Homo sapiens: one gene and its partner. The protein of the gene in region 1 purifies or fractionates together with the protein of each later gene. This does not show direct contact. Each region holds a gene or a part of one and is shown in the gene's direction. Other genes may lie near its edges.

The links.
Region 2: the proteins of GJA3 (region 1) and KLHL13 purify together in Homo sapiens (affinity purification with mass spectrometry; one large-scale study listed by BioGRID and IntAct). This does not show direct contact.

What each region holds. Positions count from the first base shown.
Region 1 is NC_000013.11:20,139,387-20,144,052, reverse strand, and holds part of GJA3 (gap junction alpha-3 protein), read left to right. Parts: intron 1-747; 5' UTR 748-764; coding exon 765-2,072; 3' UTR 2,073-4,666. UniProt on the Homo sapiens protein: Structural component of lens fiber gap junctions. Gap junctions are dodecameric channels that connect the cytoplasm of adjoining cells. They are formed by the docking of two hexameric hemichannels, one from each cell membrane.
Region 2 is NC_000023.11:117,920,551-117,925,567, reverse strand, and holds part of KLHL13 (kelch-like protein 13), read left to right. Parts: intron 1-5,017. UniProt on the Homo sapiens protein: Substrate-specific adapter of a BCR (BTB-CUL3-RBX1) E3 ubiquitin-protein ligase complex required for mitotic progression and cytokinesis.

The sequences.
Region 1 (4,666 bases):
TCTTCCTCTTTGTAACAAGAGAGCTTACATCCAGAGCTTTTGGCAAGCAATATCCCATAGACTGTATCAACTTCATTGTCATCAAGGAATTTATTCTTTTTTAAAAAAGGGGAGTAAGTCTTTATTTCCTTACTTCCAAAATAAAGCTGGCTGAGTTGGAATATATTTACTCTTAAAGCTACCATCCATTGAAGGTATTAGTGCCGATTTTCCATTGACAGTAGTAATGTAAACTTTCCTAGTTGAGATAAATTTAAGCATAAAGAGTTGATGTGAAGACAGAAAAAGCAAATAGTAGAAGAGGTATCAGATTAACATGGCAGAAGTTCTGAAGGTGGCATGGGCATGGGGATGGCAGCAATTTGGGAAGAGGTTGCTCTAATCCCACCTGAACAGAAAGGTCATGATTCAGAAGTGGCCTAAGGGGCCGCAGAGCCCCAGAGCTCCTGTAGGGTCAGCCTCAGGGAGAGGGCTTGAGCAGTCTGGAGGCCAGAGGAGGGCATTTTCTCTTCTGGCTCTGGCTTCCTCCTCTCTGAAATGAAGAGTTTAACCTGTGGTTCCTCATGGACGCTTGCACTTGTGTAGTGCCTGCTCGTCCAGGTCCTGGGGAGCTGCGATGCCTGTCCTGTGGAGAAGCTGCCCATCAGCCCCATCCCAGTACCATCCAGGCCGCTGCCGCCGCCCATGGGTGCGGACCCGGCACTCAGCCGTTGCAGCCCGGTGTTCATGAGCATTTTCCTCTTACAGGTTAGGAATCTGAAGCAATGGGCGACTGGAGCTTTCTGGGAAGACTCTTAGAAAATGCACAGGAGCACTCCACGGTCATCGGCAAGGTTTGGCTGACCGTGCTGTTCATCTTCCGCATCTTGGTGCTGGGGGCCGCGGCGGAGGACGTGTGGGGCGATGAGCAGTCAGACTTCACCTGCAACACCCAGCAGCCGGGCTGCGAGAACGTCTGCTACGACAGGGCCTTCCCCATCTCCCACATCCGCTTCTGGGCGCTGCAGATCATCTTCGTGTCCACGCCCACCCTCATCTACCTGGGCCACGTGCTGCACATCGTGCGCATGGAAGAGAAGAAGAAAGAGAGGGAGGAGGAGGAGCAGCTGAAGAGAGAGAGCCCCAGCCCCAAGGAGCCACCGCAGGACAATCCCTCGTCGCGGGACGACCGCGGCAGGGTGCGCATGGCCGGGGCGCTGCTGCGGACCTACGTCTTCAACATCATCTTCAAGACGCTGTTCGAGGTGGGCTTCATCGCCGGCCAGTACTTTCTGTACGGCTTCGAGCTGAAGCCGCTCTACCGCTGCGACCGCTGGCCCTGCCCCAACACGGTGGACTGCTTCATCTCCAGGCCCACGGAGAAGACCATCTTCATCATCTTCATGCTGGCGGTGGCCTGCGCGTCCCTGCTGCTCAACATGCTGGAGATCTACCACCTGGGCTGGAAGAAGCTCAAGCAGGGCGTGACCAGCCGCCTCGGCCCGGACGCCTCCGAGGCCCCGCTGGGGACAGCCGATCCCCCGCCCCTGCCCCCCAGCTCCCGGCCGCCCGCCGTTGCCATCGGGTTCCCACCCTACTATGCGCACACCGCTGCGCCCCTGGGACAGGCCCGCGCCGTGGGCTACCCCGGGGCCCCGCCACCAGCCGCGGACTTCAAACTGCTAGCCCTGACCGAGGCGCGCGGAAAGGGCCAGTCCGCCAAGCTCTACAACGGCCACCACCACCTGCTGATGACTGAGCAGAACTGGGCCAACCAGGCGGCCGAGCGGCAGCCCCCGGCGCTCAAGGCTTACCCGGCAGCGTCCACGCCTGCAGCCCCCAGCCCCGTCGGCAGCAGCTCCCCGCCACTCGCGCACGAGGCTGAGGCGGGCGCGGCGCCCCTGCTGCTGGATGGGAGCGGCAGCAGTCTGGAGGGGAGCGCCCTGGCAGGGACCCCCGAGGAGGAGGAGCAGGCCGTGACCACCGCGGCCCAGATGCACCAGCCGCCCTTGCCCCTCGGAGACCCAGGTCGGGCCAGCAAGGCCAGCAGGGCCAGCAGCGGGCGGGCCAGACCGGAGGACTTGGCCATCTAGTGCCCGGGTGCCTGCCTCCAGACAGCTGTGTAGTGATCTTTTTCTTAGAAACCAAAACCAAAGTGCACTTCCCACCAGCAGATAGAACCTGAAAGTCCCAGGAGGTGGGAGCGACTGGAGTCCCAGGAGGTGGACGATGGAGGAGAGATCAGGTTTCCGTGTTCAATGCTTGCTGTTCTTAGCACTGTGAGTTACAGTGGGGATAACTCCCACTTTCTGAGTTTGGGGGTGGCGGGGACAAGGGTTGTGGGCCTTTAAGATCTTCACAGCAGCCCAGAAATCTGGTCGCTGAGGGCTGTCTCTGGGGGTAACTGTTCTGTAGTGGTAAAGCAACAGGTATCCTGCAGTCCCTTTAGCTCCTGGGCAATTGGGTTTGCTATTCCTAAGCTCTCCAGAGCCTCTGGGCGGCCCAGAGGGTCTTAGCTCTGGGCCAGAGCACTTAGCTCTATCTCTTTGATACTTTTAACTTAGAGTTGAATTTCATTTGGGATATTTGCCAAACTGCACTAAAAAAAGATTTACAGCAAGTCTATGTAGTGTCATTTGAGTTTCCGAAATTGCATGTGAAGCCCAGGATATCAAGCTTCAGGCCTCATGACAAGTGACAAAGAGCAGTTGCCCTCCAGAGGCAGGCTCAGTGGGCAAGGGCCCCAGAGGTTGCTGGCAGAAGGCAGGTGGAAACGCAGCCACGCCTGAGGCCATTTTTAAACAGTTGAGGAAATTGACATAAAAGTGTGTCGGGTATGCCGTAGGTATTTATTTTCTAAATGATTATTTTGTGCTTTGAATGGTGCAGCTATGCCTATTTTCTCCCACTTTCTTTCAGGAAAAATGAAAGAAAAATAGTGTTTTTCTTTCTTTAAATACTGTTAGAATGATTGCTGACCAAGACAGTGCTAATTTGCCCTAATGCATGCTACTAGCATCTTTACTAAAGATTTTGAACTTTCTTGTAAAAGAAATTCTTTAATTTCATGAGTCACCTAATTATAATGAGAATGTATTATATAAAACAAAAGCAGGGGAAAGTTTTAAGTGCATTCAAATAGAAGTTCTGAAGATTTTGAATGGGAAGTGAAAAGTGAACTACTGTTGCCAGGAAAATTATTTATACAGATGAATCTATGACAATCTACACTTTTAAAAAGTACAGAATAAAACACTTCAAGCTTCCTAATCATTCTTTGTGGGCAGCCTGTTTGCTTTCTCCAGTGTAAATAATATAAGTGTCTGGGGATCCCTGCCTGGGGGAGGGCGCGTGCTCATGCAGGCTGTATGCCCCATTCTGCCTCCACACCAGAGCTGTCCTGACAGGGAAGGCTATTTATGTGTGTGGGCATGGCTGGAAGACGGCAGAATTTTCTGTCCTGCACACACAGCTGTAGTATCTTGGTCACCATTTGTTTATAAAATGAACGATGGTCATGTTGAGCCTGTTTCTACTCACACTTTTCACCTCCAACTTCTACTGAGTATCATTAGCCCTTGTTCAGCGAGACCAATGTAATACATTTCTTTTTATAAATTAACTTCTCGATGATGCATTTGGGACCACACTCCAAACATACTTTCTGTTTTCTATCATAAAGGGTGCTCCACTAACAATCTGATGAAAGGAATGCAATTTCCAAGTCTCAGATTCTTGCATGCAACTAGTTTTTCATGTCAGTCAAACACAAAGAATTTGTTAGTACATTCTGCTTGCTGTAGGATGCACTGGACAGGCTCCTAGGCTTGAAAAATGCTAACTTTTCCATACGTCTCCTCAGAGACTTTCTCAACCAGATTGACAAGAGAGAAATTAGCCCTTTGGAAAACTGTGAGTGACTTTCTCACTCCTCTCCAGGCTGGTGCATAACTACAGCCATTCTAGATGCATAACTTCTCTCCGAAGTTCACTCATTACATGCAGTGTATGCCATAGGCCTAGGGCAGCAGGACTTAGTTCTTGTGAGTGATAAGGGCTGCTAGAAGATCCTAGTGTGAGAAGCATTCCGATAAAAAGCTTTGGCCATTTTAGAAAATGCAATAGCAATCATCCAAGAGCACAAGTACAGCTCAAGTACAAGTGGATGTCAATACTTGGTTCTTTAAGTTCTACCATAATAAATGTTCATAACAGTAACAAGCTTCTTATTTACCCACAATTTGATTTTGAGTGGGGTTGGAGATGAGCATGAGAACTCAAATTGTATCTAGTTTTTACATTTTAAAATTGAATTTAGTCACAATATGTTTATGGAAATGCCAGTATTGTACCATTGACCATAGTCTAGTGGGTCCATTTAGAGTGGATAGGAGTGTAGAATTAGATTCACCTACTTGAAAATCACTAATCTATAAAGAAGTGAGGTTTTGCAATAGAACAGTGCCTGTGGTGTTTTTTCAGGTTAGCATACTGATTTCAGTTCATGTAAGAAATGAACGCATGTTTCACATCCTTTTGCTCTTTGAGGTATCCATGATTCTAAAGGCTGGGTCCTTCTCTCTCAGGCAGTGTGGAATTGTTCTCTACTCAACTAGTCCTTTAAGACATTGAAACATGCAATAAAAATAGAAATTGCCTCTCTCTGTGGGCAAGATTCCAGACCTAT
Region 2 (5,017 bases), on another chromosome or scaffold:
TATTTGTTTTAACTTAAGTGCATCTGTTCCTTTTTCTGTCCTTTGAATAAAATGAAGAGCAGCCTCATAAAAACATGGCTGGTATTGTTTTTATCTAATACATTACATTTACATAACACTGGAGTAAGGCCATTTCTTAACTTTCTTTAGTTCCTTAATCTTTGTTCATAGAACATATTTTCCATTATAATTTTAACTACTCTTTTCAGGATGTGTTTCGTTTTTTCTCTACTTAAAATGACAATGATCAAAACTAGATATAATATGCTAGTAAGTTTGTTCTAATGTAGAATTTAGTTGAATTATTTGTTTATCAAATTCCTTTTAAATACCTGACAGTATCAATGTAGCTTTTTTTCACAATAGCATTATATTTCACTTGAAAGCTATTGACATCCAAGTAATTTTTATACAAATTATTCATAGCTTGTCTGGTTTCCATGTTATAATCCTGTAATATCAAGTCATATTCTATTCTGTTTTAATATGATCATTTTAAAATTTATCAAACTCATTAGATGTTTCAGACTTTCTTTGTTTCCTGGTATTAGATATGTACCTCTCTCTATTTAATAGAGGTTGAAGTTTTGATACATTGGGTAAGTTTAATACAGTGAAGAGAAAAAACATGTTTAAAAACATTAAACATTAAACATTAAAACATTAAACATTAAAAATAGCATTAAAATGCTATTTTCCAGCATCAAAATAGCATTAAATGACGCTATTTTTCCAGGATATGGAGAAGAAAATAAAGGAAGATATGGGGAGATTTATAGAAGAAGAAAGGGAAATATTAAAGAAATTGAGGACAGACAAACCCCTCTTAAATCAAACCCAAGGCACAGAGACAGAAAAGTAGAGAACTAAGATAAGTGTTGAGATAGAGAGACTGGAAAGATGATGAGTTTAAATCAACAGAAGCAGTTTTAAGGACATTCTGAAAAACTAATTAGAAACTGAACAATTTGCCTAAAGCAGAGCTGCATAGGTATATGGTATACTAGCATATGGAAACAGACAAAAATGTTCATGTAAATCTTTCAAGAAGAGTGAGTACAAGTTTGGTGAAAGAAAATGATTTTACAGTAAAAGGACTTATTTCGAGTGTGCAGGAATCTTTGAAAGGCTTCTTAAATAGGGGAAAAGATTTATGAGTGAAAGCAAAAAGTAGATATATAGAAGGCAGATGAGAATTTTGGAAGATAATGAACCTCTCTCTTTTTCTTTTAATGTATGCATACTTCACTAGAAGATTAGAGAATAAAAGGTGTTTAGAGAAATGACTGCCTTCTTGTACACAACAATGTGTATAGTCAGAAGGAGCTTCTCTTTAGACAGAACTGGGATATCTGGAAAATAATATACAAACAAGATGTTTAGAATTTGTTTGAAAACAATCTGAATTGACAGATATCATTTGGATAAAGATAGACATAACGTAGAATAAAATTCACTAATATGGAATTGGATAGTGGGGTCATTCATTTATGCATATAAAAATAAAGGTTATGAAATGTTTAGAAAGGGACACTGTATGTTGTGAAAATAAATGTAAAACCTTACAAAAGCAGATAACTTGCCAAAGGTAGATACATTAAGCGTGGAATAAAAGACACTCCGAATTTGTTAAAAATGCTCTAGGTGCCTTAACTTCTTTTCTTTTGGGACACCAGATTATACTGAGAAAGGTTAAAGGATTTTTTAAAAATGATAGTGTAAAGGGACACAAAATGATAAAATCTGTGAAAAGAATAAAAGCTCCCGGTGTCTTAGCTGAGCAAAGCTGTCCAGATCTTGAGCATTGATTACATACCTCCACAAGCAGTTTGAATGGAATATGGACAAAACAAGAAATTACACAGCTGACGATACATGATGCACAAGCTACTCCTCTTTTCAGAGGGAAAAAAAAGTAATATGTAGTAGGAATGGAACATACTGACATTATTCAATTCCAATTGTAAAATATTTGCAGGAATATTTTAAAGGCAGGAGGCTAGCAAATAAGCCAAGAAGGTTTTGTTTGTTTGTTTGTTTTTGTTCTTTAGTGGAAGAAAATAATGGATCAGATACAATCATTGCTTTTGAATAAATAATCCAGAATTTCTTTATAAAGATATTGTCTACGTATGCTTTAGAGAAGAAGAATAAAAAACTATTTGATAAATAAACATAAAGGGGGCATACAGTACCTAGACTCATCTCATTAGTATCTTGACATCTCTTTTTTATGCCAATGCCCAAGGTATGTTACTTTTCCCAAGAAAAATCAAATCCTTTAACTTGCCATTAGCTATTCAAAACTTTAAAAATAAATATCCTTCGAACCAACAACTCCAGTCCTGAGAATATCTCCCACAGATATACTTAGACAGCTAAGTGTATGTACAAGGAAGTTAATTGCGGCATTGCTTATAACTGCAGAATTTGAGGGAAAACCTGAGTGTTCAACTAAGCGGGAATGGATAAATAACTTATGACATGCCCCTACTGTAGATTACTGTGCATGCACTAAAAGAATGAAATAAATCCTGTGCACTGAGATAGAAGACTATCTGTGTTATCTGCTCAAGTGAATTTTAAAATGCACAACAGTATGTATAGTAACCCACTTTAAAGAGGCCTTTATATATTTTAATACAAGCATAATGTAGATTATGATATATAGAGAATGAGGTCTTGAAGTATGCTTACTAAACTGTTAACAGTGGTTACTTCTAGTAAGTGAAAGAGGTAGCCTTTAAGTTTTTAACTTATATCCTTCTGTATTTTGACTTCAAAAAACATACAAGCACATATTTAATTTTTTAAACCTGAAATTTATATGAGGGATAAAACAAACACAAGTTTGGGAGCCAACGTTTTCTCCCCAACTCCTGGTTCACTACCTTTTCTCTTACCTTAACCTTTACCACTACCACAAACTACCACAAACGAACACAAACGAACACTTTAAGCACAACTCATTTTATTATTGGGAGAGGTTTCACAAATAAGTTCCTGGTTTCCAGTTAACTTGTTGCAAAGTTTACATCCTACCCAATGTGACTACATGGCTTTAAAGTTACCAGTGGTAGCTTCTGAGTAAAATTTTGTTTGTTTGTTCATGCGTTAATGGAACATATATTAAGTACCAACAGTATGCCAAACACTGGGGAATTCAAAGATGCTAGTCTCTCAACTGTTTCAGCTGATGCTTGACTATCCTCTCCCACACCCTAGTGTCCTCATTCACTGCTTCCCAATACTCTACATTTGAAAGGTGATTCCCACAAATTTATTGCAATTTAGACCCCATATATCAATGCCGAGATCGCGCCACTGCACTCCAGCCTGGGCGACAGAGCGAGACTCTGTCTCAAAAAAACAAAACAAAAAAAGAGCTGAAGTGACTCTTCTCATGCCTTCAGCATGAGAATATTCCCTTAAAATTGGCATCTCTTTTTATAAGATGAGCTATTATTATTTTACTTCTACTTTTCTAAATAACAGAGACAGCAGACGAATTAGTAATGGAAAATAAAAATAGTGGCATAGGATATATAATGTTTGGGTTTACAAAGAAAAAGGGGCATTTGTGAAAGATTTGATATTTGTTAACATAAACATGTCAATCATTGTTGGAAAAAGAAAAATATGATATATAATCTTGTTTTAAAGTGTATGTATAATGTATAAATATTTTTGGAATAAAAATATTCATCTCTTTCCCTAGAGGGAGAGTGGCTGGATCAGATCATCTCTTTGAAGTTCCAGTTCTGTAATTCAAGCATTTTCTTTAAAAAGCTTTAAAATTAAAATGAGAAGCTTAACTAGGGTTTATACTACACATATGTGTAGGATCAATATTTTTAAAACTGCATTCTTAATATGTTATGCCTTTTGCTCTTTAAATCTGTGAAACAAAACATAGTTTTATTTGAAGTCATTAAAATATGAAGGGGACAGAGTAATCAATGCTGTTGGTTCTTACTGTATTATATTATTAGAAAGCAATTTGTGTATTTTGTGTATCTGTCTTCCTGGTTTTTTATAATGAAACATTTCTATCTTTGAAACTACAGACTCAATCTTGCCAAAATGTTCATTTTTTGTATCATTGTTAAATTGCATATTGTTCCCTTTTGGTGTACTTTAGTAGCCTGTTACAATCTTTTTAAATTCGTTATTCTTAATCGACAAATAAACATTATATATAATTTGTCATGTAAAACATGATATTTTAATCACATCATGGTAAATGGGGTATCCATCCCCTAAAGCATACATCTCTGTACCCACAAAAATTAAAAATAAAAGATAAAAATTGAAAAACATGATGTTTTGAAATATGTGTATGTTGTAGATTCAACCTGTTATAATCTTAAAAGTGATTGTCATTCTTCCAACTTATATCAATAGAACAACTGTCTATTTGTCGTTAGTTGAGACCATCAGGGTGTAGTGAAAAAGCTAATCAACAAGGATTCTTCTCACCAGAGCTCTGTCACTCCTCTGAATTGTGGCTGCTAGCCTGTTAATTCTCCACTAAACCTTTAGGCATTTGGAGACAATTAAGTCTCATGTTGGGGTTTCCTGGGCTTTTTTTTGTTTTTTTTCAAACAAAGATAATTAAGTCTCAAACTTGAAACTTGAAAGATATTTGGCCAGGCAGCAGCAATGTACTGAGTATAGGCTTCTCAAAGAGATGAAGTAATACAATTAGTAGAAAGAACTATCGTGTACTTAATACAGTTGCTCTCTACTTTTCTTTCTCAACCTCCCCCAAAACAAAACAAAACCAAGATGCTTCAGTCAAGCACTATAAAAGGACTATTAAATTATCGCGAAAAGGAATGTTAAGACAGTCTAATACTCTCATTCTGCAGATGGGAAAGTAGAAGTGCACATTGTAATTATTTTTCAAAATAAGGTAAAAGCTGATAATTGTGTAAATAAGCAAAAGTATATACTTTTTCCTTAATCGTTTTTAACCTAAATTAGTCTTAATTTTGTGTTATTCCTACAGTGAAAG